Homo sapiens: one gene and its partners. The protein of the gene in region 3 interacts with the protein of the main gene of each other region in a pairwise test. Each region holds a gene or a part of one and is shown on either strand. Other genes may lie near its edges.

The links.
Region 1: the proteins of KCNJ6 (region 3) and TMEM120B interact in binary tests that used the Homo sapiens proteins (3 or more experiments, as listed by UniProt).
Region 2: the proteins of KCNJ6 (region 3) and ZDHHC24 interact in binary tests that used the Homo sapiens proteins (3 or more experiments, as listed by UniProt).
Region 4: the proteins of KCNJ6 (region 3) and TM6SF2 interact in binary tests that used the Homo sapiens proteins (3 or more experiments, as listed by UniProt).

The regions. Positions count from the first base shown.
Region 1 is NC_000012.12:121,743,749-121,750,770, forward strand, and holds part of TMEM120B (transmembrane protein 120B), read left to right. Parts: intron 1-4,577; coding exon 4,578-4,694; intron 4,695-6,631; coding exon 6,632-6,691; intron 6,692-7,022. UniProt on the Homo sapiens protein: Necessary for efficient adipogenesis. Does not show ion channel activity.
Region 2 is NC_000011.10:66,543,027-66,549,890, reverse strand, and holds the start of ZDHHC24 (probable palmitoyltransferase ZDHHC24), read left to right. Parts: upstream 1-3,842; 5' UTR 3,843-3,887; coding exon 3,888-4,168; intron 4,169-5,909; coding exon 5,910-6,187; intron 6,188-6,758; coding exon of another isoform or gene 6,759-6,864. Other genes in the region: ACTN3 (alpha-actinin-3), read right to left, coding at 3,105-3,380. UniProt on the Homo sapiens protein: Probable palmitoyltransferase that could catalyze the addition of palmitate onto various protein substrates.
Region 3 is NC_000021.9:37,913,439-37,920,846, reverse strand, and holds the start of KCNJ6 (G protein-activated inward rectifier potassium channel 2), read left to right. Parts: upstream 1-4,389; 5' UTR 4,390-4,963; intron 4,964-7,408. UniProt on the Homo sapiens protein: Inward rectifier potassium channels are characterized by a greater tendency to allow potassium to flow into the cell rather than out of it.
Region 4 is NC_000019.10:19,270,283-19,277,668, forward strand, and holds the start of TM6SF2 (transmembrane 6 superfamily member 2), read right to left. Parts: upstream 3,020-7,386; 5' UTR 2,934-3,019; coding exon 2,839-2,933; intron 844-2,838; coding exon 740-843; intron 161-739; coding exon 63-160; intron 1-62. Other genes in the region: SUGP1 (SURP and G-patch domain-containing protein 1), read right to left, coding at 6,366-6,392, 6,665-6,794. UniProt on the Homo sapiens protein: Regulator of liver fat metabolism influencing triglyceride secretion and hepatic lipid droplet content. May function as sterol isomerase.

The DNA of each region.
Region 1 (7,022 bases), on a different chromosome or scaffold from region 3:
TAGGTGCAGCTGTAGCCCGGGGGCTGCCCTGGTTCTGAGGGACAGAAGTCCAACTCAAAACAGGCTGAAGCAGAGAATGGAAATCTCAGTGGAAAAAGACAGGACTGGGAGTTGCTTCAGGCATCACTGGATCCAGGAGTCAAAGGGTGTTTTGGGGCATGTATTTTTCCCTCTAAATTCTGCCTTCCTCTGGATTGGTGTCACTCTCAGGGTGACTGTCCCCTTCACCAGCAGTGCCAGGCTTATATTCTCCAGCCTTGCTTCCTGCCGGCTGTGCCACCCTGGCTGAAGGAGAGTGTCTCTCTTTTTTTTTTTTTTTTTTTCTTGAAATGGAGTCTTTCACTCTGTTGCCCAGGCTGGAGTGCCATGGCATGATTTCGGCTCACTGCAACCTCTGTCTCCTGGGTTCAAGCGATTCTCCTGCCTCAGCCTCCTGAGTAGCTGTGATTACAGGCATGAGCCACTGTGCCTGGCCGAGAGTTTCTCGTTCCCAGTACTTCAGCCGACATTCTGGGTTCAGTCCTCATTGGCTGGGATTGGTTGAATGCCCATTTGTGAACCAATCACTGAGAAGCTGCTTGGGCAGCGCCATGCCGTGTGCTAAGTCTGTGGCCCTGGGCGGTGGAGGGATGGCCACATGGGTGATGGGAGAAGAAGATAAGTAGTTTCCCGGGTGAAAGTTGGGTGCTGTTATAGGAAGGTGCCCTGCCGGACAAGTAAGCAGGCAGCGTCCTTTTGTGGGTGTGGGGTGCCCTCCCCACTGGGGTTGCTGGTGTAGTGGCCACTAGGCTGCCATCCCTGGTGGAGATGTGCTTGAGCTCATAGCTTAGTTCAGTTCCCAAGGCCTGGATCGTGTTCATTTCCTGACACTCATGGTCTCCAGGTCTGGGAAGTCCCCTCCTGCCTGGTATGTGAAGGGGCCCAGTGGATGCCGTGACCCCATTGTCAGGCAGGGAAACTGAGGCTCCAAGTGACTTGTCCCAGGTCACTTAGCTGGGCCTCCATTTTAGAATCTGGGACTCCTGGTCAACTCTTTCCTTGTGGACAATTTTGGAGGAAGGTCCTGATTATAGCTCTCAGTGTGGCTGGCCATTTTGGAAATGGAGGCCCGCAACTAAGGGGTAGAGAGTGTGGATGGCCCTGTGCAAACACGTCACCAGATGTGGCTTTGGAAAAACACATCTTGGTAATGGCAGGGCTCAGAGTCTAGAGTTTCTTCAGATTCTCAGTGATTGCTTCACAGATGGGCACATGGCGAACCCCAGCACTATTGATGGGTCTTTGTGGGGGCCGTGCAGTGCACTGTGGGATAGTGAGTAGCATCCCTGGCCTCTGCCCACTGATGCCAGTAGCACTCCTGCCCCAGGTGTGTCCACCAAGATCTCTCCAGGCATTGCCAGCTGTCCTCAGTTGAGAAGTGCTGGGTTAGAAGGTTGACCCGTGAGTTAGGGTCTTAGACCAAGGACCCCTGTCATTCTGAGATGTGTCTGCTGACTTGTTTTCTGGTTTTGAGAGTTCCGTGTTACCAAAGAATAACAGACCATGATTGGTCGACTGCTTATGCTTTCAGGTGCCTTTTTGTCTGTCTCTTGGTCATCTGTAGGTTATTCCTTTATTTCTATTTTTTAAAATTATTTTCATTCATTCATTCATTCATTCAGAGATGAAGTCTCGCTCTGTTGCCCAGGCTGGGGTGCAGTGGTGCAATCTCGGCTCACTGCAACCTCTGCCTCCCGGGTTCAAGCAATTCTTCCTGTCTCAGCCTCCCGAGTAGCTGGGATTACAGGTGCCCGCCACCACGCCCAGCTAATTTTTGTACTTTTACTAGAGACAGGGTTTCACCATGTTGGCCAGGCTGGTCTCAAATTCCTGACCTTAAGTGATCATCCTGCCTCGGCCTCCCAAAGTGCTGAGATTACAGGTGTGAGCCACCATGCCTGGCCTTACTTTTTTTGAGATAGTGTCTTGCTCTGTCACCCAGGCTGGAGTGCAGTGGCGCAATCACGGCTCACCACAGCCTTGATCTCCTGGGCTCAAGCGATCCTCCCACCTTAGCCTCATGAATACTAGGACTACATGCATGTACCACCATGCTTGGTTGTTGTTTTTTGTTATTGTTGTTGTTGTTTTTGAGATGGAGTTTTGCTCTGTCACCCAGGCTGGAATGCAGTGGTGCTATCTTGGCTCACTGAACCTCTGCCTCCCGGGTTCAAGTGATTCTCCTGCCTCAGCCTCCCAAGTAGCTGGGATTATAGGGGCCTGCCACCACACCCAGCTGATTTTTATATTTTCAGTAGAGACAGGGTTTTGCCATTTTGGCCAGGCTGGTCTCGAACTCCTGACTTCAGGTGATCTGCCCACTTCAGTTTCCCAAAGTGCTGGGATTACAGGCATGAGCCACCACACCCAGCCCCTGGTTGTTTTCTTAAACCGCCCCCCCACTTTTTTTTTTTTTTGAGACAGAGTTTCGCTCTTGTTGCCCAGGCTGGAGTGCAATGGTGCGATCTTGGCTCACTGCAACCTCTGCCTCCCGGGTTCAAGCGATTCTCCTGCCTCAGCCTCCCGAGTAGCTGGGATTACAGGCATGCACCACCATGCCCAGCTAATTTTGTATTTTTAGTAGAGACGGGGTTTCTCCATATTGGTCATGCTGGTCTTGAACTCCCAACCTCAGGTGATCGGCCCACCTCAGCCTCCCAACGTATTGGGATTACAGGCTTGAGCCACTGCACCCGGCCTTGGTTGTTTTCTTTAATTAATTTTTTATAGAGACGGGGTCTTGCTATGTTAGTCAGGCTGGTCTCAAACTCATGGCCTCAAGTGATCCTCCTGCCCTGGCCTCCCAAAGTGCTGGGATCATAGGCGTATGTGCTGGGACTATAACATCATGCCTGCTAGCTATTTCTTTAGAAAAATGAGAAGAAGGCCGGGCGTGGTGGCTCACGCCGGTAATCCCAACACTTTGGGAGGCCGAGGCAGGCAGATCATGAGGTCAGGAGATCGAGACCATCCTGGCTAACATGGTGAAACCCCATCTCTTCTAAAAATACAAAAAAAAAATTAGCTGGGCGTGGTGGCAGGCACCTGTAATCCCAGCTACTTGGGAGGCTGAGGCAGGAGAATGGCGTGAACCCAGGAGGCGGAGCTTGCAGCGAGCCGAGATGGCGCCACTGCACTCCAGCCTGGGCGACAGAGCAAGACTCTGTCTCAAAAAAAAAAAGAAAAGAAAAGAAAAATGAGAAGAAAAATAGTATTGTCAGTAATTATCCCTTGAGCTCATACTATCAAGTATTATTCTAGATGCTCTATGCTGTACTTACTCATTTAATCCTCACCAGGCTATTGTCTGTGAGGTAGGCTTGAGGTTATCCCGGCTTTTCAGGTATGGAAAATAAGGCAGAGAGGTTTAAGGACTTTCTGAAAGTCACAAGACTACCTGGGAGGCAGCATCACTCCTCCAACCCCGAGAGTTGAGATGGGGAACTGCGGTTGCGAGAGGCACTGGGGTAGAAGGTGGGAGGCTGGGGTAGAAGGCGGGAGGCTGGGGTAGAAGGCGGGAGGCACTGGGGTAGAAGGCGGGAGGCTGGGGTAAAAGGCGGGAGGCTGGGGTAGAAGGCGGGAGGCTGGGGTAGAAGGCGGGAGGCTGGGGTAGAAGGCGGGAGGCTGGGGTAGAAGGCGGGAGGCTGGGGTAGAAGGCGGGAGGCTGGGGTAGAAGGCGGGAGGCTGGGGTAGAAGGCGGGAGGCTGGGGTAGAAGGCGGGAGGCTGGGGTAGAAGGCGGGAGGCTGGGGTAGAAGGCGGGAGGCTGGGGTAGAAGGCGGGAGGCACTGGGGTAGAAGGCGGGAGGCTGGGGTAGAAGGCGGGAGGCTGGGGTAGAAGGCGGGAGGCTGGGGTAGAAGGCGGGAGGCTGGGGTAGAAGGCGGGAGGCTGGGGTAGAAGGCGGGAGGCTGGGGTAGAAGGCGGGAGGCTGGGGTAGAAGGCGGGAGGCTGGGGTAGAAGGCGGGAGGCTGGGGTAGAAGGCGGGAGGCTGGGGTAGAAGGCGGGAGGCTGGGGTAGAAGGCGGGAGGCTGGGGTAGAAGGCGGGAGGCTGGGGTAGAAGGCGGGAGGCTGGGGTAGAAGGTGGGAGGCACTGGGGTAGAAGGTGGGAGGCTGGGGTAGAAGGTGGGAGGCACTGGGGTAGAAGGTGGGAGGCTGGGGTAGAAGGTGGGAGGCACTGGGGTAGAAGGTGGGAGGCTGGGGTAGAAGGTGGGAGGCACTGGGGTAGAAGGTGGGAGGCTGGGGTAGAAGGTGGGAGGCACTGGGGTAGAAGGTGGGAGGCTGGGGTAGAAGGTGGGAGGCACTGGGGTAGAAGGTGGGAGGCTGGGGTAGAAGGTGGGAGGCTGGGGTAGAAGGTGGGAGGCTGGGGTAGAAGGTGGGAGGCACTGGGGTAGAAGGTGGGAGGCTGGGGTAGAAGGTGGGAGGCTGGGGTAGAAGGTAGGAGGCACTGGGGTAGAAGGTGGGAGGCTGGGGCCCGGGGAGTCCATAGCCCTCCTCCCTCTGAGTGACGCCCCTTCCCCTGTGCCTGCATCTCTGTCCGCAGGTGCAAACGCCATGCCAGTCGGGAGGAGGCGGAGCTCGTTCAGCAGATGGCAGCGAACATCAAGGAGCGGCAGGACGTCTTCTTCGACATGGAGGCCTACCTGCCCAAGAAGAACGGGTAGGAGCTGGCAACCTCCCCACCCCTAGCACAGGCCCATGCCCAGGCCTAGCACAGCTGGTCCATATAACTCTCGCCTTCCTGCTGGTGCTCAGATTGAAGGGGAAAGAGGGAAACAAGGGCAGGAGAGATAAGGAGCCTTCCTTACACATTCCTCCATGAGCCCAGGAGGGGACCTTAGCCACACCGTGTGACAGCAGCATTCCTGGGAGGTCCGTTGCAAGGAACCAGCACTCACTGCATGCCTGCTGACACCTGGGGTTAAGAGGGAAACTGTCCTCTCCCAGGAGAACAAACATGCATTGCGTGCCTCCTGCACGCTCAGAGCTGTGCCGGGACCTCCTGTGATGTCACCTGGTTTATCCTCAACAATCTGTGCGTCAGACCAAGAGATGCCCATTTTTACAAGATTCAGAGACATCAGCGAATGTTTGGCCACACCAGGATGTGAACAGCAGACATTCTGACTCCAAAGCCCACGTTCTTTGTATTTTCCCCCTTCAGAGAAGTCCCCGTTCCCTCCCTTAAGTGATGTCATTGCCACCTTGTTCTGGAGAGAGAGAGCTGCTTACAGCCTCATATCATCATGACCTGACTTAACGCTGCTGAGCACAGTCAGTTCACCCTGACCCTGTTTTCCGGATCAGCCTCGCGCTGAGTCAGAGCCGTGCATTAGGAGGAGGGGCTCCTTTCAGGCCTGTAGCGGGTGGGAGGGAGCTGGCTAGCCCTGTTATATTTTAACCCATTCCTCCGAGCTTCTCCTTTTTGACTGTGTTCGAATAGACCCCATGAGTTAAGTGATGATCATTTTCTGCAGAATGAGCAGCAGCCTAGCATTCGTGACCCTCTTACAGTGTCATGCGTGTCTGCCTTCCTGCCCCTCTGTCCCTAGGCCTCTGTGCCTCTTAACCTCAGTTGGGAATCTTTGGATTGCAAACGATAGAAAACCCAACTCAAGGCCGGGCGCGGTGGCTTGTGCCTGTCATCCCAGCACTTCGGGAGGCCGAGGTGGGAGGATCACTTGAGCCCAGGAATTCAAGACCAGCCTGGACAACATTGTGAGACCACATCTCTACAAAACTTTAACAAAATTGGTGTGCTGGTGTGTACCCATAATCCCAGCTACTTTGGCGACTGAGGTGGGAGGACTACTTGAGCCTAGAGGTTCAAGACTGCAGTGACGCTGGGCACAGTGGCTCATGCCTGTAATCCCAGCACTTTGGGAGACGGAGGCAGGTGGATCACTTAAGGTTAGGAGTTCAAGACCAGCCTGGCCAACATGGTGAAACCCCTAAACCTACTAAAAATACAAAAATTAGCTGGCCTGGTGGCACGTGCCTGTAATCCCAGCTACTTGGGAGGCTGAGGCAGCAGAATTGCTTGAACCCAGGAGGTGGAGGTTATAGCGAGTCCTGATCGTGCCACTGCAGTCCAGTCTGGGTGACAGACCGAGACTCTGTCTCAAAAAAAAAAAAAAACAAAAAACACTGCAGTGAGCTATGATCATACCATTGCACTCTAGCCTGGGCAACAGAGTGAGACCCTGTCTCTAAAAATAATAACAATGATAATAATAATAATAATGAAAAATAAAGAAAATTCTTTAAAAATTGACCTAGAGGTTGTACCTTTGCCTCCACCTCATTGGCTATGCTTAGTCACCTGCTCACATCTGGCTGCAAGGCAGGCTTAGAAATACGGTCTCTAGGGTAGCATGGAGGAGAAATCGACTCCTCACACTGTCCTGTCACAGGTTAATGTCCTTTGGTTAGTTGTCATTCTCACTCGATGTGGGGGCCCATTTGCCCGCTGAGCTTAGGCCCCCTATCTTCTAACATCAGTGCTTGGGATGTGCTCATTAAGTGTGTTGAGTTTGAATGTTGTTGATTCGCACCCACCTGCTAAGGATCATGCCCCTCACAGGTGTTTCCTTCCAGGCTCTACTTGAACCTGGTCCTCGGCAATGTGAACGTGACCCTCCTCAGCAACCAGGCCAAGTAAGTGTCCCCCACCCACCACCCAGACCCACACCTCACACCGCCCCCACACCCACACCCACACCCCAAACCCCACACTGAGAACCCACACCCCACATCCACACCCACACCAACACCCCACACCTCAAACCCACACCCACACTCCACACCAACACCCCACCCACACCAACACCAACACCAACACCACACCCACACCCCACACTGCGAACCCACACCCACACCCACACCCACACCCCACACCACACACTCAAAACCCACACCCCATGCCAACACCCCACCCACACCCTACACCCACACCCCATACTCACACCCCACACTCCACACTCACACT
Region 2 (6,864 bases), on a different chromosome or scaffold from region 3:
CAACTTGATGGGAACCTAAGCACTGAATAGGGCAGTTAGATTTCCCACAGTTCCCTCCAACCCTGGAGTCTAAGATGCTTTGAGTTTGGAAAGGGCAGGGGGATAGGCAGGTCTGGGTGGTGCCAAACATGACTCTTTTTTTTTTTTTTTTTTTTTTTGGAGACAGAGTTTCGCGCTTGTTGCCCAGACTGGAGTGCAATGGTGCGATCTCTACTCACTGCAACCTCTGCCTCCCTGGTTCAAGCGATTCTCCTGCCTCAGCCTCCCAAGTAGCTGGGATTACAGGCATGCGTCGCCACGCCCTGCTAATTTTGTATTTTTAGTAGAGATGGGGTTTCTCCATATTGGTCAGGCTGATCTTGAATTTACAACCTCAGGTGATCCGCCCCCCTCCGTCTCCCAAAGTGCTGGGATTACAGGCATGAGCCACCACTCCCAGCCCAAACAAGACTCTTAATGAGATGTGGTTCCTGCCCTAAGGGAGCTCACAGTCCATCCAAGAGTCATTTTGGTCTGAGAAGCGCTGTAAGAGGTTGCCGAGGAATTTATGGGAGGGACGCTGCGGATCAGGGTCCCCTCTTGGGGAAGGCGAGTATTTGATCAGAGCTGTGATGGGCAGGAATTATTCAGGAAGGGAAGGGCAGGCAAGGGCATTTCAGGCAGGGGCTGCCATGCAGGCAAGTGCTCGGTGGCTGTGAGAAACACTTGCTACATTTGTCAGACTACAAGGATCTGGGCACTGCTGGAATGGAGCTGGGATTGTTGGGGTATAAGTGGTGAGAGGCAGGCCGGAGGGGCAGCAGGAGCCAGGTCATGTGTGATCTTGGGTGCTAAGCTGGGGAGTTAAAATTTGATCCGGAGGGCAACAGAGAGTCAGGGAAGCCTCAGGCAGGAGGGAGGTGGGCAGAACTGTCCATGCTGGTTGCAGAGTGGAGATGAATGGCTTGGCGTGGCAGAAGGCAGAAGTGAGGACGCAGTCACTGGGATCAGGGCAAGAGAGGAAGGGTGTCAGTGTGGGGGACAAGGCAGGATTGGATGGATGAGACAGAAATGTTGGAATGTAAGCTCCCATGGCAGGGGCTTTATTTTGTCTGCTGCCGAATTCCAGCACCTGAAACAGCGCTGGCACATGGTAAGACATCAGGTGGGAGGAGGCAGCGTGCTGCTCCAAGACTGTGTGAAGGAAGCCCTTGGATGGAGGAGTCACTGGGGAGAAAGGGAGCATAGAGCAACAGGGAGGGGTCAGGGCTAAAGCTGAGCACAAGGATGTTTATTACCACCTTGCAATAAACAACGCTGGACAAGAAAGAAATGAGCCAAATGTCCAACTACAAGGGATGCTGATTGATTTTCAGATCCTCTATGCTGTGCCAGCCATTGAATGAGTAGATGATGAGATGGTGACTGCAAGTTGGGATGAACAGATGTTCCTGATAATTTGTTAGGTGACAAAGGCAAGTTACAGACTGGCACGTGTCATATGGGGGGCACGCAGACCTGGATCTCGGAGAGGCCCGGGTGGGTGGGGGTAGGGATAGGAGATGTTGCAGAACAGGTGGCAGCTGGAGCCAAGGACAGGGATGACACCACCGGGAAATTGCCAAACCTGGGACTGCAGCCGTGCTTGGAGACAGGTGCAGGGGGAGCCTAAGGGGAGGCCTGTCACCCGGGGCACCCCAGCCGAGTCAGCGGAGCCTCTCGGCCCTTGGGGTCATCTCCTGTCATCTAACCCAGCAGAAGTACTCTGATTCTAAATTCTGGGACTCTCAGGTCATTTAAATTCCACTGAGTACCCCAGTACCCTGCCCTCTCCTGGAGTCATACAGTGTTGGCACACGCTGAGCAGGGTCCAATGGCCTCATAGTGCCCTCCTGGTTACCCCTGGCCTGCCACTCTCCAAAGTATTCTCCCTCTGGCCTGGATCATTTTCCCTTTGGGAACCCAGGTGTCCTGCCCCCTCTACTTGGGAAAGTCTGGGAGTGAAAATAGCTCAGGGAGGGAGGGGCCCTGAGTGCCCAACGGGCTGGGCCTGGGTAGCAGCTGCCCCTGTGCCCCTCTTTGGCGCCCCCGAGGTGCTGCCTCAGCACTAAGTGTCCATCTGGCTGGAGAGTCAGGTTACAGCGTAAGGGGACCCAGGTCTCCCCTCCTCCCCGACCTATGGCCTTTTCAGCAGACTCAGGGCCCCATGCCTGGGGTATCTTGGGAAAGAATGGGGGTAGGGAAAAGGGTAAAGATCCTCAGGTTGCGGGGGTCCTGATGTCTGACAGTCTGTGATGTGGGGCCTGTCTGTGCTCTTTCTGGGCTTCAGTTTCTTCAATTGTTAAATGAGATACAGCGACTATGGACCCCACCCTGGAGACGAGGTGGGGTGGGGTCTGAGAGGACCCTTCTCACTACCCCCACACTCCCAAGTCCACTAGTTGCCTGACTGCAAGCCTTCAGGGTGGGGTCTGGGAATATTTAACTAGAAGAAGATTCTTCTTTCTGAACCCCCCCTAACTTGGATCTCCTGGGGTTTGCCCAGCCTGTTTTCAGCAGCAGAAGTGGGGCAGTGGGCCCAGGGGAATGAACCCTGGTGGGGGTGGGGAGCCCAGAAACTCTCTTGTCATTTTAAACCCCTCTTGAGGGCTCCCAGCCCTCTCCTCCAGCCCTGGGGACAGCAGGCAGCTGATGGGCAGAGCCTGGGCTGGGGATTAGCACTCTAGGTTAAAGACAAGCTCTGCCCCTGCACTGCTGAGATGCCCAGGACAAACAGCCCGGCCTCTCAGGCCTCGGTTTTGCTGTCAGGAAATGGGCGAGCACTCACTTTCCGCTGCTGCTTCTCCCAGGCCGGGTCCAGCAGCAGGTCGCGGTCCCAGTCCTCCTCCTGTTCCATGTACTCGCCGCCCCCGCCGCCGCCCGCAAAGCGCCCCTCCCCGGCCCCCAGACCCTCGGGCTGCATAACCATCATCATCTCGATCGGGCTCCTGGCTTCGCTCCGCTCGGCACGCTCTCGGACACCCGGGCCCCATTAAGTAGGGCCCAGCCCAGCCCCAGATCGAATTCGCACTAAATATGGGGGAGGAGGGAGGGGCCGGATGGGGGTGAAGGAGCTCGGGTTGGACCTGGCAAGGGGTTGTCCTGAAGCCGGGAACTGCGGGACTCGGGGGCGCCGGGGTGGATCTCGCGGCGGAGATCCTGGGTTTGCATTCCTGCTCCGCTGCTGGGGCGCTGTGTGACCTTGAGAAATCCACGGGACCTCTCTGAGTCTGTTTACTCCTCTCCACAATAGAAAGGCCGATAATAATAGTGGCCGCGGGCCGCTCTAGAGGCTGCCCTCTGGAGCTCCTCGTGAGCCTCTTCCAGCACCTCGCTGGTGGGACACAGAGCCCTATCCCCATTTCACAGTCAGGAACACAGAGGCGCCGAGCTGTTTTGCATGTTTTCTGGGGTGATGGAGACACCCGGGCATGGGGAACGGCTCTGAGCCAGCTGGATGGGCTGCGGCAGGGCTATTAATATCGGGGCGGCTGTGGGGAGTAGGGGAGAATGTGCTGAGCCGGGAAACCCCGACACCACCCCGGCTGCAACTCAATCCCCCGGGCACTCCTGGCCCCCGCGCCAGCGGGCGGGGCTCCGACGGGATGGGAGGAGCCTCCAGGGTGGGCGGGTCAATCACTCCGCGGCGTTATCCGGGCTCCAGCGCCGCGGGATTCCGAGCGCCTCCACTGCTGGTCCGTTGGCCAGATCAACTCGCCGCGTGGGCCGGCCGTTCCCTGAGAGTCTGAGCGCTCGCCGCACCCCCTTCCGAGCTTCTATTGGCCGTAGCAGACGTCCGTCTGCCGCTATCTCCGCCCCAATACGGAAGCGGCCTAGTCCTCCGGCTCCGACAGCTGGGTGTCCAGGCCATGGGGCAGCCCTGGGCGGCTGGGAGCACGGACGGGGCGCCCGCGCAGCTGCCTCTCGTGCTCACCGCGCTGTGGGCCGCGGCCGTGGGCCTGGAGCTGGCTTACGTGCTGGTGCTCGGTCCCGGGCCGCCGCCGCTGGGACCCCTGGCCCGGGCCTTGCAGCTGGCGCTGGCCGCCTTCCAGCTGCTCAACCTGCTGGGCAACGTGGGGCTCTTCCTGCGCTCGGATCCCAGCATCCGTGGCGTGATGCTGGCCGGCCGCGGTCTGGGCCAGGGCTGGGCGTGAGTGGGGTGCGGGATCGGGCGGGGAGAAGTGGGAGCCTTGGACAGGGGGGAGGGGCCCCAAGACCTGAGATGTTAGAACCGGGTTACATTAGGATCCAGGTTGTTAGAATCAGACATTTTTTTAGAACCTGGGATGGAAGAGCTAGAATTGAGTGTTATTTATTTACTCGCAAATACTTATTGGGAGCCTACTAGGTGCAAGGTTTTGTTACAGGGACGAAGGGTACAATAGAACAAATTCCTGATTTGAGGGGGGTGCAGATGAGAAACTAGAGGAATAATAAGCAAATCATATAGAATGCTAGAAGGTGATAGTAGTTTGGAAACAAGAAGTAGAGCAGGGTAAAGGGGTTGCAAGTTTCAATATTAAATAGGTGGTTAGGCCGGGTGCGTTGGCTCACATCTGTAATCCCAGCACTTTGGGAGGCCGAGGCCGGCGGATCACTTAAGGTCAGAAGTTTACCAGCCTAGCCAACGTGGTGAAACCCCGTCTCTACTAAAAATATAAAAAAATTAGTCGGGCATGGCGGCACGTGCCTGTAATCTCAGCTACTGGGGAGGCTGAGGCAAGAGAATTGTTTGAACCTGGGAGGCGGAGGTTGCAGTGAGCCGAGATCGAGCCACTGCACTCCAGCCTGGGTGACAGAGCAAGACTCCCTCCGTCTCAAATAAATAAATACATAAATAAACAGGTGGTAAATTCTCATCACAAAAATATGAGTGTTTGAGGTAATGGCTATCCTAATTAGCTTGATTTATTCCAAGCTGTACTGATAAATCATAACATCACTTGGTATCCCATAAGTATATACAACTGGAATTTGTCAATTTATAATTAGAAAAAAAAATTACACCAGGTACAGGCTCTACACACACATTTTATGCCAGGCAGAGGCTTTTGCTGAGACTGAGGCTGTAGTGTGCTATGATCACACCTGTGAACAACCACTACACTCCAGCCTGGGTAATGTAGCGAGACTCTGTCCCTAAAAATTTTTTTTAATTAATTTTTAAAATAATATACATAAATGTGTGGTCAAGGTAGACCTCATAGAGAAGGAGGCATTTGAGCAAAAAACTTGGAGGGCGTGGGGGGCGGTTAGCCATGTGGGAATCTGAGGGAAAGGTGTTCCAGGCAGAGGTAACAAGTGGTGCAAAGGCTCTGAGGCAGTTGTGTACCCAGCATGTATGTTCCCAGAACAGCAAGAAGGCCAGTGTGGCTGGAGTGCAGTAAGAGAGGGGAAGAGATGTCACAGATAGAAGGATGTTGTAGGACACTGAAGGCTTTGCTTTTTACTAGAAATAAATTGGAGAACCACAGGAGGGTTTTAAGCAGAGGAGGGTCAGTTTGGTTGCTGGGGTGAGACCGTACGAGGTGGGGCAAAGGTGGAATCGGAGACCAGTCAAGAGGCTATTGCAGTAATCCAGAGAGTTCCTAGTGACCTGGACAAAGGGGTGACCGTGGAGGAAGGGAGGGATTTGCTGCTGGATGTCAGTGGCTTGAGAGAGGTCTCAGGACTGGGGATGTTAGGGCTGGAAGAGACCTCAGACCTGTAGTGCTAGAACTAGAAGGGCCTGGGACATCTTGTTTAGCCTGCATTTACTTGTAAAGAAATTGAGGCTTAGCCAGGGCAAATGGCTGTTGCCACTTCCGCAGGATGGGCTCTGGGGCAGCCCTGTGCACAATATGGGGCATCTGAGCTGCTGGGGGAACTGACGCTGTGGTTCCTTCCTGCAGTTACTGCTACCAATGCCAAAGCCAGGTGCCGCCACGCAGCGGACACTGCTCTGCCTGCCGCGTCTGCATCCTGCGTCGGGACCACCACTGCCGCCTGCTGGGCCGCTGCGTGGGCTTCGGCAACTACCGGCCCTTCCTGTGCCTGCTGCTTCATGCCGCCGGCGTCCTGCTCCACGTCTCTGTGCTGCTGGGCCCTGCACTGTCGGCCCTGCTGCGAGCCCACACGCCCCTCCACATGGCTGCCCTCCTCCTGCTTCCCTGGCTCATGTTGCTCACAGGTGGGGAGCCTGGGAGGCCTCTGCACAGAGGCAGGGGCCCTGGTATTGGGCTGGGGAGTACAGCCCATTCTGGTGGGAGACGGGCTTTCTGGCCTGGGGGACCCAGCCCCAGTGTCAGTGATGGCCAGTAAGGGCAGCTTGGTATTCACCCGGGGGTGCAGTATGGAAACTGGTGTGTTGAGACAAGTGCAGCGTTCTGGCTGGAGAATTGGGAGATTCCTGGAGTTGTTGAGAGAGGAGAAAGACTCGTGGGAGTCTCTGCATGGCGGGATGTGGAAGTGCATTCTAGGAGCATTTCTAAGTGAGAGAAGCAATAGGAACAAAGGCTTGGAGAGTGGGCAGGGAATTGTGAGAATTAAGGCCAGATTGGTAGGGGAGGCCTGGCTGGTGGGGTCCTGAGAACTGGTGTGAGGAGATGGCTCCTATTTGACTGGACAGTGGGGAGCCAGTGAAAGTGACAGGCAGGAGAAGGCCCAGTTATGGGAAGCTGGGGAGGGCAGACTTGGATCAGCAGGCTGCCTGAGATGCCATGTTCTAGACGACACATATGTTCCTCTTCCCCCATCTACAGATAGAAGCCTCGCTGGTCCTTTTTACTCTTTGTTCTCTACCCCCAGAATGCTTTGGCCTTTCTCGCCCCCATTCCTTCCTCCTGACCTTTCCATGGTTCCCTCTGT
Region 3 (7,408 bases):
ATCAAATAGTCTTCTGACTGCACTTATTTATCAAGCCATGAAATTAAAATAAAAATATATGATTTCAGGACATTCATAAGTATTTATGACTTAAGATTAGTAGAAATGGTGAACGTCATTTTAAAGTGTTAGTATCGGCAAGTCTGTGTGGTCTGCAGGATCCTCAATTCTTGCCTTCTCAGAAGAAAGAATTCGACTGAGGGGCATAAGGCAGAGTGAGAAACCGAGGCAAGTTTTAGAGCAGGAGTGAAAGTGTATTAAAAAGTTTTAGAGCAGGAACAAAAGGAAGTAAAGTACACTTGGAAGAGGGCCAAGTGGGCGACTTGCGAGATCAAGTGCACTGTTTGACCTTTGACTTCGGGTTTTATGCGTTGGCATACTTCCCGGGTGTTGTGTGCCTTCTACCCTGATTCTTCTCTTGGGGTGGGCTGTTTGCATGTGCCATGGTCTGCCAGCACTTGAGAGGGGCCACATGTGCAGTGTTTACTGGAGTTGTATGCATGCTCACTTGAGGCGTTCTTCCCTTACCAGCCAAGTGTTCCTAGAAGAAGGTTAGATGACAGTTAAACTGTGCCATTTTGCCTTAGTCCACATGCTTGAGCCCACTCACCTAAGTCCTGAGATGTCATCAGGAAGCTGCTGATCACCAGCTTCGGTGTTTCTGTCTATTGGGAGACCACTTTTTCTGGTGCCAGCTGTGACCAATTATTATTGTAGACGGACAGTTTAACAACTGCCTGACCATCACCTGACGGTCTCCTGGCATGCCTGGTGGGGAAGGCCCTCTTCTGCCCTGCTCATGTCTGACTAGCTACCTACTGTAACAAAAATAAGGAAAACACGTAGGAGATAAAAGTGTATCAAGGGAAAAGGGCATAACTCAATAATTGTTCTAAATTATCCTAAAGTTCTAAAGACCAGCCCCAAAATGCCTCAGAGCTAAAACCCCTCTGAAACCCCCTCCTTAGCAAAAATTCTTAACTTTTTACACCTAGAAATATTTCTTAAGAATTAAGATGTATTTCTTAATACATCTCCAAATTTATAATCAATCAAAGAAATACCAACCGCTGTTTACAGATATTCCCTAAATAAGAGACATGAATGAAATCCATCTGAAGTGGCTACTGCTGTCTGTGGTATATACCCTGGGGTTCATTGTCATGCACTGAGAAAGAATTCGGCACACAGACACAGGTGAGTGGGTTAAGGAGCAGAAAGTGTAATAGAAGAAAGGAGAGAGGAGGGGAGAGCAGCTCCTCACGAGCAAGAGACACGTGGAAAAGGGAGAAGGTAGAGGACCGCAGCAGATTTTATACGCAGGCTGGAGAAGGCGGTGTCTGATTTACAGAGGGCTCACAGGTTGGTTCACTCAGGTATGATGTCTACATAGTGTGCTGGGAAGGCTAGTTGCCCCACCCTAATCTTCTTATGCAAATGGACTTTCCAGTTGATTGGCACCATCTTGTCTGCTCGTTTACAGTACACGTGGCTAACAGAGACGGGAAGATGGGACCGCCATATTTAACATCTTTAGTCCTTAGTTCCTGCCCGCATTCACCTGTGCAAGCTCCCAGCTTGCAGGCTGCTTGCTCTCTTAGAAAATTATTTGGGGCTGATTTTCATTAAAAAGAAAAGCCTTACCTAGGACTCCCATACCCTTACTATCTGCCTAAGTAATTGCTTCTTAACTCCTATATCACATTCAGTACACTGGAAGTACAAATGTAAAATAGAATAATTTTAACACTTATCTCTTGATACTCTTTAAGATGTCCTTTTATAGACAAAATAAATTTTTTAAAATTTATGTTCCCATCTCTGCATTTTAAATATATTGTTTATCTGTGGTAGGGTTTTTGTGGAGAAAGCAGGCAGGGGAGTGAAACTGAAAAAGAACTAGGTCTCTTAATAGTTAGACCCACAACAGCTAAGGTCTTAAATCTAAAACAAGTACTGGCCCAAGGGTGGAGACCAAAAACTCCCAACCATCTTAGTTCTGGTGTCAGCCTGTCTAAGGCAAGGCCAGATCTACACATGGGCCAAGAAGATAGAATGGTTTATAAATTGCCGCAATCAATGACAGAGAAAAACAAGATTACCCAAAACAAATGACAGCCCGTCAAGATAATTCAGTTTGTTAATTTTACTAGCTAATAAGTCTCCATTACAGCTTTATATGTGGGAGACAAACCAGTCTCATCTGTATGACATAATCAATCAATTATAAAAGTCACTGTGAGATTTGGAGCACTGATTTACCCTGAAAGATCTTCTCCCCCAGGCCTTGCCTTCACCTGAAATCATAAAATAGATATATAAGTGAGATTTCAGACAAGCTAAACACAATGTAGTTTGAGAGACCAGGCTCTCAGGAGCTCAGAGGAGCCACAATTTGCAGCTCTGAAGCACAGCTCGCCTGATTTTCAGATGTGGCTGCAGTCTCTTAGTTACACCCATGCAGATCACTTTATCAGAACTCTACGGAATAAATGAATGAATTCAGTTAAGCCAATTGCTCTTGTCTCTGGTGTTTATCAAATCCCAGGCTGTGTTAATGGGATCCATCTCATTCAACACGTGCTCTTATGCCATTCACAAAGTGCTATTGCCCACATCACCCCGGCAGCTGTTTCAAGTAGGGGAGTTTTCAAAGTATTTGAAGGAGACAAATAGGTTACTTCCAACTCTTGACTTTCTTATTTAGTCTAATATCTTGTAAGAAAGATACTTTGTGAAATCATTCTACTGGTAAAAGTATATATCATCAAAATTAGCAGGCATACCCATAGCAGCTTCACAGATTAAACAGAATGCCCTTTACACAACTATAGTCAACATGGGTTGTTCTTTTAATGTTCTAAGGCTGTGTCCACCGAAATCCTGCATCTTGCATTTGTATTCCTGGTCTCTCAGGGATTATTTGGTTCAGTTGTTCTTTGTTTATTTGTAACACTATCACTAGATCCAGCAGGCATTGTGGAGCACGTATTACACATACTACAGATATTACACATACTCATATCTTCTGTATATGGGATATATGACTCAGAAGTAATAGCAAGTCAGATTACAACCTCTTAGGGAAAATCAACAGCAAATACAAGCTCACAGGCCGTGTGTACGGTTGACTTTTACATGACTTTGGATGCAAATTGACACAAACACCTCTCCATATTACAGTCATTTTTAGAGGGCAGACAGCATTCTTGAGGGGACCTGAATTGCTAGGTAATTAAAATGTATGTATGTAGAATAAAATAATCTTGGAAATAAGAGGTTTCCGTAAGCCTTCTCTCTAAAATAAGGTCACCTTCTTTGAGGTAGAGATTCTGTGCCTTGTGGAAGGAAAGCCACTTCATAAAGCAGCACAAGAATAGCCAGTTATTGAAAGGGCCATTATAAAATTACTAGCCAATGGTATTCGCTACTCTTACAATTTGTCAATCCATTCATCCCTAGGAAAAAGACAGCATAAAAGAGAGTTCTGTTCATAGGTAGAAGCAATTTATGGGAAGACTTTGGAAATGTAGAACCATTGTTTTTGATGACCATAAGAAAAAGAGGGGGTGCAAGAGGGGAGCACTATGAGGGGCCCCTGGAATAACAGCACAAAGCAAGTTAGATTCAAAGAGTGGAGTAGACCTTTGTCTAAGGGGCTTATCCTGACAAATTCAACTTTGAAGGCAGCCTGGGTCATTCTTGGAAAAGGCCATTCTTTGTCTCCAGTGACCCCAGAGACATCATATAAGGATGGGGTGATGATGCAGCAGCCGGGACCAGGTCCCAGTTGCAGTGGACAGGACAGAAGGGACTGAATGGGGCAGCAGGCTGGGGCGCCACCAGGTGCAAGCAAAGCTCAGGGATAGGGCCCCTCCCCTCCGTCCCGGCCGCTCGCTGCGCCCCCTCTGGGCGGTGCAGGCTCCGGCTCCCGCGCCGGGGCTGCCTCTCACGGATTTCAGCCCGGTGGGAGGCAGTGCCCAGAGCCTCTTTTTCCTTATCTCACAAAACCCTAAAAGCCGAACCCCTACAACCAGCAGACAAAACTGCTCCCCGAGCTTCGGCTCTTTCCTGCTTTCCAGGCGTTTCTCCGGGAATAACTTACTTAGTGGCACTGGGAGAAAGGTTGGGACTGGGGGGTCGGGGACCGAAACCCAAAAGATTCCCCCAGCATGGAGCACCCACGTTTCCAGTGGCGGGGGATGCACGTTGGTTTGTGCCCAGCCCGCCCCCACCAAGCCCGGTCCTCGACGCGCTGACACGCTAGCTGGCATGGGCGGCGGGGTGGGCGTCTCTGGGTCTGTGGCTCTGTCCTGCTCGCCCCCGCCCCTTCCTCCCGGACCGCGCCGGCGCTGTGCGGCTTTTTCCCCAGCACGCGGCGCTGCACTCGCTTTTATCTCGGAGCCGCGTCGCTTCGTGCGCTGCCAGCGGGGCTCAGCCAGTCGGCTGGAATTGAGTAGCATTCATTGAATCTGCGGATTTCATGACGTCTCTCTGCGTGGTCCACCACTTTTCTCCTAACCGGGGATTTTTTTTTTCTTCTGCCACTCTTATCTTTCCCCACTTCATTCCACCCAGTCTCCCTCCCCCGTCCCTGCCCAAACGCGCGCCCCTCCGCCCCTCCCTTGGCCCCAGCGCCCAGCCCTGCTCTCCGCGCTCGGCCAGAGGGAGCCAGTCCGGAGACGGCCGCACCTGGCTGGAGAGGCTGGGCGGGCGGAGGGGTGGAGACCCGCGGACGCCGGGAAGCCGGACCTGGAGCCGGAGCAGCCGCGAGCAGAATGGAGTCTCCTAACAGCCTCTCGGTGCTGATGTGAAATTTGACCATCTGATTCCAGTTTTTTTCTTTTCCTTTTCTTTTTTGCATTTCCTTCCCTCGCCATCCGTCGTGTAGTGAATTGTTCAGTCTTGCTCCGTTTCAAGAGAGGAGATCATGATTGAGTGAAGCCACCCCGTCCGCAGCCAGGTAAGCGGTGCGCTGAGCTGCTCGCAGGCGAGGAGCTGGCGTCCACCTGGGCGAGGCGTTCCGTGCTCTCGGGTCCCCGCGTCCCCTTCCCCAGCTCCGCCGTCGCCGCAGGCATCTCCACTCTCATGAGAAACATTGTGCCCAAGTCAGCCGAAAGGCGAGGGAGAAGCCGGTTACATAACAGAAGGGGAATCTGTTTCATACGGTTTTCATTAGCGACTGAAACTCGCACGGGGGGCGGGGGAAGGAGGGGTCTGCATCCCTGGGCTCGCAGAAACCCAGTCAGTTATTGCAGACATCATTTCAACATCCGCTGGCAAAGACTTAAATGCACTGATTAACTGACAGGTGCGGCTTGTGATGTAGTCATTTACAGTTGGGAAAAGCCTATTGTCTTTGTGGAAGGCAGTCTTCTTGTTCTGCTTTGCATGGAGAGGAGAGGAGACAACACGAAAGGGAGGAAAAGTGAGGGTTGGGGAGAAACATGCGGAGAATGGGAAACAGAATACTGTAACTCCTAACTGTTCTCTATCCTTAAAACCGAAGATGTGCTAGCATGACTAAAAACAGTGAATAGGAAGATCTTCCTAGGAGTAAACTGAATTATTTTGTAATTGGAAGGGAAGAAAAAACACTTTAGATAAAATGAGATGTGTGTGGCATTTAGAGGACTGGGTGGCTGTGGATATTTGCTTCCCTGTGGATATATTTTCATTTTCATCAAAACATTAAGCTTGGATTAGTTTTTAAGTGAAATAACATCAGTATTCCCAAAACCCAATAAAAGCCCAGTGGATCCACAGGTACATCTGTTGTACTAGGTGCAATATGGAGAGATTGTCAGGGGGAAAATATATCTTAATAGAAACAGCCACAGAGGGTGAGGTTAGTGGAGAAACAAAATACCAGAATTTTCCAAAGAATTCCGCCTCCAACCCCCAAAAAAAGGAAGAGAAAAAAAAAAAAACCCCACAACTCCAGTGTTTGGGAGTTGGAGATGTATTATATGTTTAGAGTGTTTCCCAACTGCTGTTATCCAAAGTCTGTCGGTCCCGGGGAGCCCTACGGTACAGGGAGCAATGCCACATCCTGCTAGCCCTGTTCCCTGCCTGCCTTTCTTTTGCTGAAAAAAAGAAACGGAAAAGGGTGATGCCCAGGAACTGCTTAGGGAGAAAAAAGGGCTTGCTACAGTCAGGGCTGAGCTAACTGAGCTTCGCCCATTTTGCCTGGAGAAAGAAAAAGAGCTCGAGTCTCCATGGCGACCCAGGTGGGAGGGGAGACCGCAGCTCCAGTTATAGGGGAAAAAAATTGGACAAAACTTTCCCGGCTCCAGGCAAAGGAATACGCCAGCCGCGTGCCCTGTGGCGGGTCCCAGGGCATCGGTTGTGCCCAACTCCCTGACGGCGACGCTCGAGAGGGCGCCCAGAGCTGGCCGGGTGCCCCTGAAACCTCCCGAAAGTTGCCTGGGGGCCGCCGAGGTGGTGGTTCCTCAGCGGGTTCCGGATTCAGCACCAAGGCCAGAGCCCAGGCGCCGAGGGTGAAGCCTCACCTGTCTGCAGCCCCCAGCAAGCAGTACCCACTCCTTTGGTCGCTGGAGGTCAATCACTTTCTATAAATAAATGAGTCTTTGGCTCGTGCAGAATCTGGATATCAAATTACCCACGGAATTACGTGAGGCAAAGAAGCTTGCAAATCATCCATTTTATGCATGGCGGTGCATCAGAGGACCTATTCAGAATCAAGAACACTGGGACAGGGAAAGACCTGAGCTGAACTGAGAGTGGAGACAGGATTCTGTCCTCAGGGGGAGAAAAAGGACGCGCGCGCGCACAGACACACACACACACACACACACACACACACACACACACACACCCCGATCCGCCTCTGACGAGGGTTGCTAGTTTCAGCTGAGTCCCTTTGGCTTTCAAAAGCATGCATCCCTTGCCCTCTCACGCTCTTCTCTTTAACTTTTTGTTGGGCATAGATGGCAGAAGGGAGCTGTGGAAGCACCCTGGTCAGCGAGAGGCCAGCCAACCAAGTTTGTTATTTCTTTCTTTCTTTTTTAGACGGAGTCTCGCTGTGTCACCCAGGCTAGAGTGCAGTGGCTCGATCTCGGCTCACTGCAACCTCTGCGTCCCGGTTTCAAGCGATTCTCCTACCTCAGCCTCCTGAGTAGCTGGGATTACAGGCGCACACCACAACACCTGGCTAATTTTTGTATTTTTAGTAGAGACGGGGTTTCACCATGTTGGTCAGGCTGGTCTCGAACTCATGACGTTGTGATCCGCCTGCCTCAGCCTCCCAGAGTGCTGGGATTACAGGCGTGAGCCACCGTATCCGGCCCAGCCAAATTCTTTCTAAGGGTCCTAGGACTGAAGAGGGTGGAGATATAGTTTCCTCTCGGTCTAGAACTGGAAGGAATCAAAACAACACTGGTGAGCT
Region 4 (7,386 bases), on a different chromosome or scaffold from region 3:
GGGCAGGTGGGAGACTCAGACGGGCAGTGCGGTAGGGGGCTCCCTGGTCGTCCCCCAAGTACCTCCTTGGTGTAGAACTCCATGAAGCCCACCACATAGCTGTCTTCCTGAAGAGCGATGATGAGGTCCACAACCGAGGTGAAGGCGAAGACAGCGAAGACTGCAGTGAGTGGGCGGGCCGGGTCAGGTGTGGGAGGGGACACGTGTGGGTGGGGCTAGGGCTTAGTGTGGGCGGGGCTTGAAGTTAAGGTCAGGGATGAGATTATTCCAGGCAAGGACTCCAGGCCCAGTCCCTGCCCCAACCCCAAAGGTTGCATGACCACAGTCCTGCCTCATTCTGCATGTCTGATGGAGGAGACACAGCCTGGCTCTCAGAAGTCCCTGGTTTGATTCAGAGGCCCAGTGCCTGCCTTTGGGAGTCCCCAGTCTCATGGGAGAGGCACCGTCCCTGCCCTCAGGAGATCTCAAAGTGATGAGGCAGTATACTCTTTTTCAGGAGCTTCTAATCTGATGCAGGAGATGCAGTCCCTGTTCTTAGGAGCCCCAGCTCTGAAGGGGGAGGCTCTTTGAGGTTCCCCAGTTTAATGGGAGTGTTCAAATCTCTTTGAGGTCTCCAGTCTGATGGGAGCTCTTAAAGGGCCCCCAGTCTGATGGAGGAGGCCCCTTAATGGCCCCCAAGTCTGAGGGTGGAGGCCCTTGCCTGGACAGTCTTCTTCCCCACAGCTTCCCACTGACTCACCAGCATAGAGTGGGTCATAGGAGACCTCGCCATGGGACAAGCTGTAGACCGCCACGAAAAGCAGACCCAGGATTAGGGCGCTCATCAATGCCACCCACAGGGGGCTGTGGAGAGGGAAGCCAAGTCAGGGAGGCCAGGCCCAGTGCTGAGGCATCGCCCCACTCTCCCTGGTGGGGGAAGGGGCAGACTCCTGGAAGCCCCAGGGGAAGAGACTAAAGTGTCTGTTCATCCATCAATGCTGTTCCCTGAAACTGCTCTCACCCTGTGCCAGGCCCTTGCTCAGGCTGTTTCTTCCTTCTGGAAACCGCTTCCAGAAGTCTTTTCCACTTGGCAAACTCCTACTCATCCTTCATGGCCCATCCACATTGTTCTTCCTCCATGAAGCGCTCCCTGACTCCCCAGAAAGGATCACTGTTTAACTCGGGCTAGCTACAGAGGGGATATTCATCAGCCTGTTTCTTTTTCTCTTTTCTTTTCTCTTTCTTTCTTTTTTTCTTTTTCTTTCTTTCTCTCTCTCTCTCTCTTTCTTTTTGAGACAGAGCACTGACACCCAGGCTGGAGTGCAGTGGTGCAATCTTGGCTCACTGCAACCTCTGCCTTCTGGGTTCAGGCGATTATCCTGCCTCAGCCTCCCAAGTAGCTGGGATTACAGGTGCCCACCACCACACCCGGCTAATTTTTGTATTTTTAGTAGAGACGGGGTTTCACCATGTTGGCCAGGCTGGTCTCGAACTCCTGACCTCAGGTGATTTGCCCACCTCGGCCTCCCAAAGTGCTAGGATTACAGGCATGAGCCACCACGCCTGGCCTGCCCCTTCTGACTTTACCATTTATCCCATCATTTGTTATGTGTTTGACTCAGTCTGTTCAGTCATTCGACAACGTCAAGCCCCTCTGTGGCCAGGCCCAGCTCCCAAGCCACAGGGTCTCGAGTGCTCAGTTCTGTAGACTTCATTGTCTGACGCTCCCAGCTCCTCCCAGCTAAAGTCCAAATGCCTCTATTAACTCCACCCTACCCCTGCCCTGATCTGCACCCACAACCTGATAAGACAGGTCAACCAGTTGCATAGATAACAGAAGCCAGGTCTCTGGGCAGCCCTCAACCCAGGTGGGCAAATCCAGGCCCAGAGAGGATGGGAGTACTGTCCAGTTGTCCAGGGTCACACTCAAGACTCTGTCCATCACTCTCCAGGCCCCTATTTTCTCATGATCCCCTCAGAACCCAAGATTTCCATCCTGACCCCATCTAACAATGACATTATAGTACTCAGATGAGACCAAGACAAATCTTTGTACACAGTTTATAATCCTTAACCGTAACTATGAGATGAGATCTAGGATCGTGCCCATTACACTGATGAGGGAACTGAGGCTCCCAGAGGAACTTGGCTCACCCAGGATCCCAGGAGATGGAGATGGGTATTCCCACCCAGGGAGCCAGGCTCATGGTTAAGACTCTCTCCACCCCATGGCTTGGGTTGAGCTGGGTTTAGAAGTACGAGGGGCTTGCAGATGCCCACTATCCGGTGGCTGGACCCACAGGGCTAGGATCTAGGGTTAGGAGACAGGGACCAGGAAAGGGAACCAGTAGGGGGAACTGAGTCTAGGGACATGGTTAGCCAGCCCTGAACAAGAGGAAAGTCACAGGCCTGAGACAGGCAATGGAGTAGGGTGTGTGTGTGTGTGTGTGTGTGTGTGTGTGTGTGTGAGCAGGAGTCAGGTACCCGGGGCCTTATCTGGGACAATACTTTTACCCTTGGTGACTTTGGAACCTAGGCAGGGCGCATCCCTGGGAAAACCCCAGAAACCCTCCAAAGCTCTGGCTTGTGGGGACTCATCATTCCTTCTTCCCAGGCCACAAACATCCCAGGAGCGGCCGCATCCCAGCCTCCAGCCCGGCGGGAAGGGGACTTCCGGTTAGAGGGGGGTGTTCTTCTGGCCCACCCCAATCCTGCCGGGTCGGAGCTGAGCTGGGGCGCAGGGCTCGCAGAAGCCAGGTCCGCGGACCGCGCATCCTCCCTCCAGCCCACCTCCAGTCCTCCCCGCCCCCGCCCGCCCCCACTGTCCCCAAGGCCGCCCTGGCCCCTCTCCGCACGCACTGCGAGAGCGCCGAGACGTGGTTGAGCGCGTAGGACACCGGGAGGGCGCTCAGCGACAGCGCCGCGATCTTGCCGGCCAGCGGCGGGATGTCCATAGCGGCGGCTGCTGGACCCCGGCTCAGCCCCGACGCGTTCTCCAGGGCGCTCGGCTCCTCGTTGGCGGCGAGTCCGGGCCGAGGCTGCCAGGGACCCGCCCCGCACAAAGGTCGACCCCGCTGCGCCCTGGGCAGGCCGCCGTGACCGCCCTGCGTGTTCCCAGGGAGCCTCCAAGGCCCCTCCCCGGCCCTCCCCCTGGCAGCTGCCCCGCCCCTTCGCCCCTCACCATCGACACCCTCGTCTCCAATGGCCGTCCCGCTACTCAGCCTCAGTTTCCCTCACTGTCAAAGGCTGGGACACAACACCTCGGGATGCTTCTGCTCTTAGGCCAAGGGGTGCGCCCTGGAGGTCCTGGCGTGCCCCCTCTTTCCCCTGCCTCCACAACTTCGTTCTAAGGAAATTTTCTCCTGGACTCTGCGCTTCTAAACCTCTGCATTCCCCAGAGTTTCCCATCCCCACCCAAAGATCAAGTCGGCATTCCCTGTGCGCACGGATGGAGCAACCTCCAGCTCTTGGGTGCAAAATGCCTTTCAGTGGGCTTAGATTTGAGTTTTCATAAGGTGGCCACAAATGTAAACGTGTTTCCAGGCAGGTGTGAAGTTTTTTTGTTTGTTTTTTGAGAGGTCTCACTCTGTGGCCCAGACTGGAGTGCAGTGGCCCTCCTCCTTGAACTCCCAGCCTCAAGAGATCCTCCTACCTCAGCCTCCCAAGTAGTTGGGACTACAGGTATGCACCACCACGCGCAGCTAGTTATTTTTTGTAAAGACAGAGGTCTCACTTTTTTGCCCAGACTGGTTTCAAACTCCTGGGCTCAACAGATCCTCCCACATCAGCCTCCCGAGGAGCTGGGATTACAGGCGTGAGCCACTGCGAGGGGTCTTTAAGTGTGAGGCTTTGACTCCGGGGCTGTCCCTTTGCAGGCTAGTCCCGGGTTTAGGGTTCTTCATTTCGGGGAGAGGGTAGAAGGGGTCCTAGCGGGTGGGGGCTGAAGTTAGAATATCGGGATGGAGCCAGTTTGGTGAAGAGTTTGGGAACGGTGTTCCTGGCAGGGAGGAAAGTGGCTCAGGCTTGGAACTGAGCAGTGGAAAGGAGGTCGGTTCTGCTGGGGTGTGATGAGAAGCGAGACAGCTGTGAGAGGCTGTGGGAGGTTTTGAACAGCTGGGAGGGGGCCACAGTATTGGGGGGGAGAATAAGGAGACCATCTGTCTTTGTCACCCCCTCCAACCAGACTCTGGCCCATGTGGAGTACTTGTGGATGCTGCAGACAGCAAGGTGAACCATGCCCACCTGACGCCTGCCCTGCGGGACCCCAGTCTGCAGCTGGCACAAATTCTAACCACTGCCCCTACCTCAGGCCCCATTCTGCACGCAGCCCCTTAGCTTGATGCCAACTGGGTCACAGGTCTTCCTGAACTGGGCCACAAGAGGGTCTTCTGGCCGCAGGTCTGACTCAGCCTCCTTCCCCAGGTGTCCACTGCCCATGGGTGAAGTTCAGGTTCCCCTGGACTTTCCCCAACTCTAGCAGGGTCAACACCCCCCAGGCCTGCTTTCTGTCTGTAAAATGAGCCTTCTTGTAAGCGGGCCCCAGCATCCCCTCCTCCAGGCAGCCCTGCCTGCCACCCCCACCCCACCTTCTCCACACAAGGCCAGGGTGCCTGTGCCCAGCTCAGCCTAGGGGCTTGGCCTTGTCCCGTGTACAGGATGCACCTGCACACGCACACAGCACTTGGAGGCCTCGTCCCCTGGCAAGGGGTAAAGTCCATGCCCTGAGCCTGGTGAGCCTCCAGGTTGCTGAGAACTGAGAAGTGACTTGGATGGCTGAATGCCTGGGACCCAGTGCCAGGATTCCCTGAACCACTGGCTGCAGAGAACTACCCCGCTGTGCTCAGGGTCCTGGCCCACTGCCTTCTGGGCAGCCCTCATTCATGGGCACCCAGGCCAAGCCCACCAATGTTACTCTTTGCTCTGCCTCAGCCACAGCGTCAGGAAAGAACAAAGGGTGGTATATCACCCCAGCCTTGGCTCTGCCACTGCATCTGGCACCTCCCTGGTCTCAGACCCCACTGAGACACTCTGCAGACCGCCCCACCACGGCTCCCTGGTTCCTCTCAGTAGCAGCCTCAGACCTCATCCCCAGCAGCCTGGCTGACTGGAGTAGATCTTGTCCACCTGGTCCCCACACTTGGCACCTAGTGTTTGCTGAATGGCTGTGTGAACACAAGCTGGCCCAGGAGCCCGACTCCATGCCAAGCATGTGAATAGGGAGCCCCTGGTGCCTGCAGGGGCTGGGCAGCACCCACTGGGTGTGTGTGGAGGGGGTGGGGGCAGATGGAAATGCAAATTCCCAGGGCCCTGCCCAACCAGCTGACTCGGCAGCTGCAGCTTAACAAGATCCCCAGGGTGACTTAGGCACAAATGTGGGGCTCTGGCCCTGGGGCAGATGTGGGGGTCTTGGCACACACTGTGGCCTGGGCTACCCTCCTGCCTCAAAACCTCCGGCTCTGAGGCCCTTCCTTCTAGGAGCTGCCTGACATGTTGGCATGGCACATCCATGCATCCATGCGGCTGTCCCCTAACGACACAAGCCCCAGGGACTCGTGTGCCTACCACACTGGTGGGACCTGAAGGGCCACAGCCAACACCTGTGTGCTGGGCCGTGCCAGCACCACCTGCCAGGAGAGCACATGGGTGTGCCCAGAAGCCACCTGCCCCCACAGGTCTGAGGGAAGGTGGGGCCCTGCCTGGAGACCCCTCCCCAACCTCCCTCTGCAGCACAGTGCTAGGCTCGGAGGTTCCTGACATTCCTTTAGCCCAGGTGTGGCCAAGTCTCCAGCTTTATTATTATTATTATTATTTGAGACAGAGTCTTGCTCTCTTGCCCAGGCTGGAGTGCAAAGGCGCAATCTTGGCTCACTGCAACCGCTTCCCAGGTTCAAGCCATTCTCCTGCCTCTGCCTCCCGAGTAGCTGAGACGACAGGTGTGCACCACCATGCCCAGCTAATTTTATATTTTTAGTAGAGACAGGATTTCACCATGTTGGCCAGGCTGGTCTTAAACTCCTGACCTCCAGTGATCCGCCCGCCTTGGCCTCTCAAAGTGCTGGGATGACAGGGGTGAGACACTGCACCTGGCCTTCCAGCTTTACTATGCTGAAAACAACTTTCTTCCTCCCCTCCAGTGCAACCCAGGCTGAGCGGGGATGGAGACTCCACAGGCCAATAAGGAGAGCCCCGAGACAGCATCTTGCATCCCGCTGCTAACAGGAGGGGCTTCCTGCAACAGGACCAGGCATCTGTGGTGGATGAGCACTGGGACTTTATTACACGGCACGGCACTCGTGACAACGGAAGGGGTGGGCAGAAATGCAGGCCGGAACATTCCACAGTCCAGGGACGGTTGGTCATTCAGAAAGTATGTATTTCCAGAACACTCAGTAGTAAGGCCGTCTGGGATTGTTCTGTGGAAGGCAAAACAGATAACAGGAGGAGGGGATTAGCACTAAAGACAGCAGTTCCTCCTGTCTGGAACCTTCCGGAGGCAGCTGAGCCCGCACCCTTGAGGTGGCAGGGCAGGCTTGGGGGACGGGTGGGGGCTTGAATGCAGGTGGGTGGTAGGGGGCTCGCTGGTGAGACCCAGCCTGGCTGGACTGAGGAAGGAAGGGAGCCTTCTGTTCCTACCACCACCCTCTCCTGTCGACTGAGCAAAGGCAGCCCAGGAGGACATGCGTACCAGGGGGTTGGGCCGGAAGCGGTAGGCCAGCATCATCCTCTTGCGGAACGCCTCATACTCGTCGTCCTCCTTGGAGAGCTCCGCCGGCCGGTCAATGCCGAAGCCAGCGCCGTCCACTGTGGTGGTGCCCCTACAGGGAGAAGAGGATGTGAGCAGGGACCTGGGGCCAGAACTCTGGCCGGGGGGCCGGGCACAGCTGGGCTCTCAACAGCACCTCCCGCGGGTGCAGGGCTGGGCTGGGACATATCTGCACAGAGAGAAGCTTGAACCTGAATGGTCAAGGAGGGGAGACCCCCGGGGCGGGCGGGGGGGGGGGGCCTAGGCCCCAGGGTCCCACACAGGAAGGAGGAGCCCACAGTGCAAGTTGTCGCAGCTCTTGGGATGGCAGGATGGTTACTCAAGGACAGCCTTGAAGGGGGCACTCGGGGCCAGGGTCACACCTGGGAGAGCTCCTGCCCATCTCTGGGAGTGGTTTCGCACTCATGGGGAATTCAAATAAGGCCCTTCACAAGGCAGACAAGGCCTGACCCATCTGTACCCTCACCCACCCCATCTGGCCTGGAGATACTCATGAGGGGACGGAAGGAGGCCCTGGGACTGGGGAGGACCCAGCCCGTATGGCCTCCTGCACTGCAGGCCTGTGCCTGACAAGGGGTGTGCAGTGGGGTGCTGTGATCATTTTGCCACAAGGGAAAAGCGATGACATAAAGGGGTGGGAATGG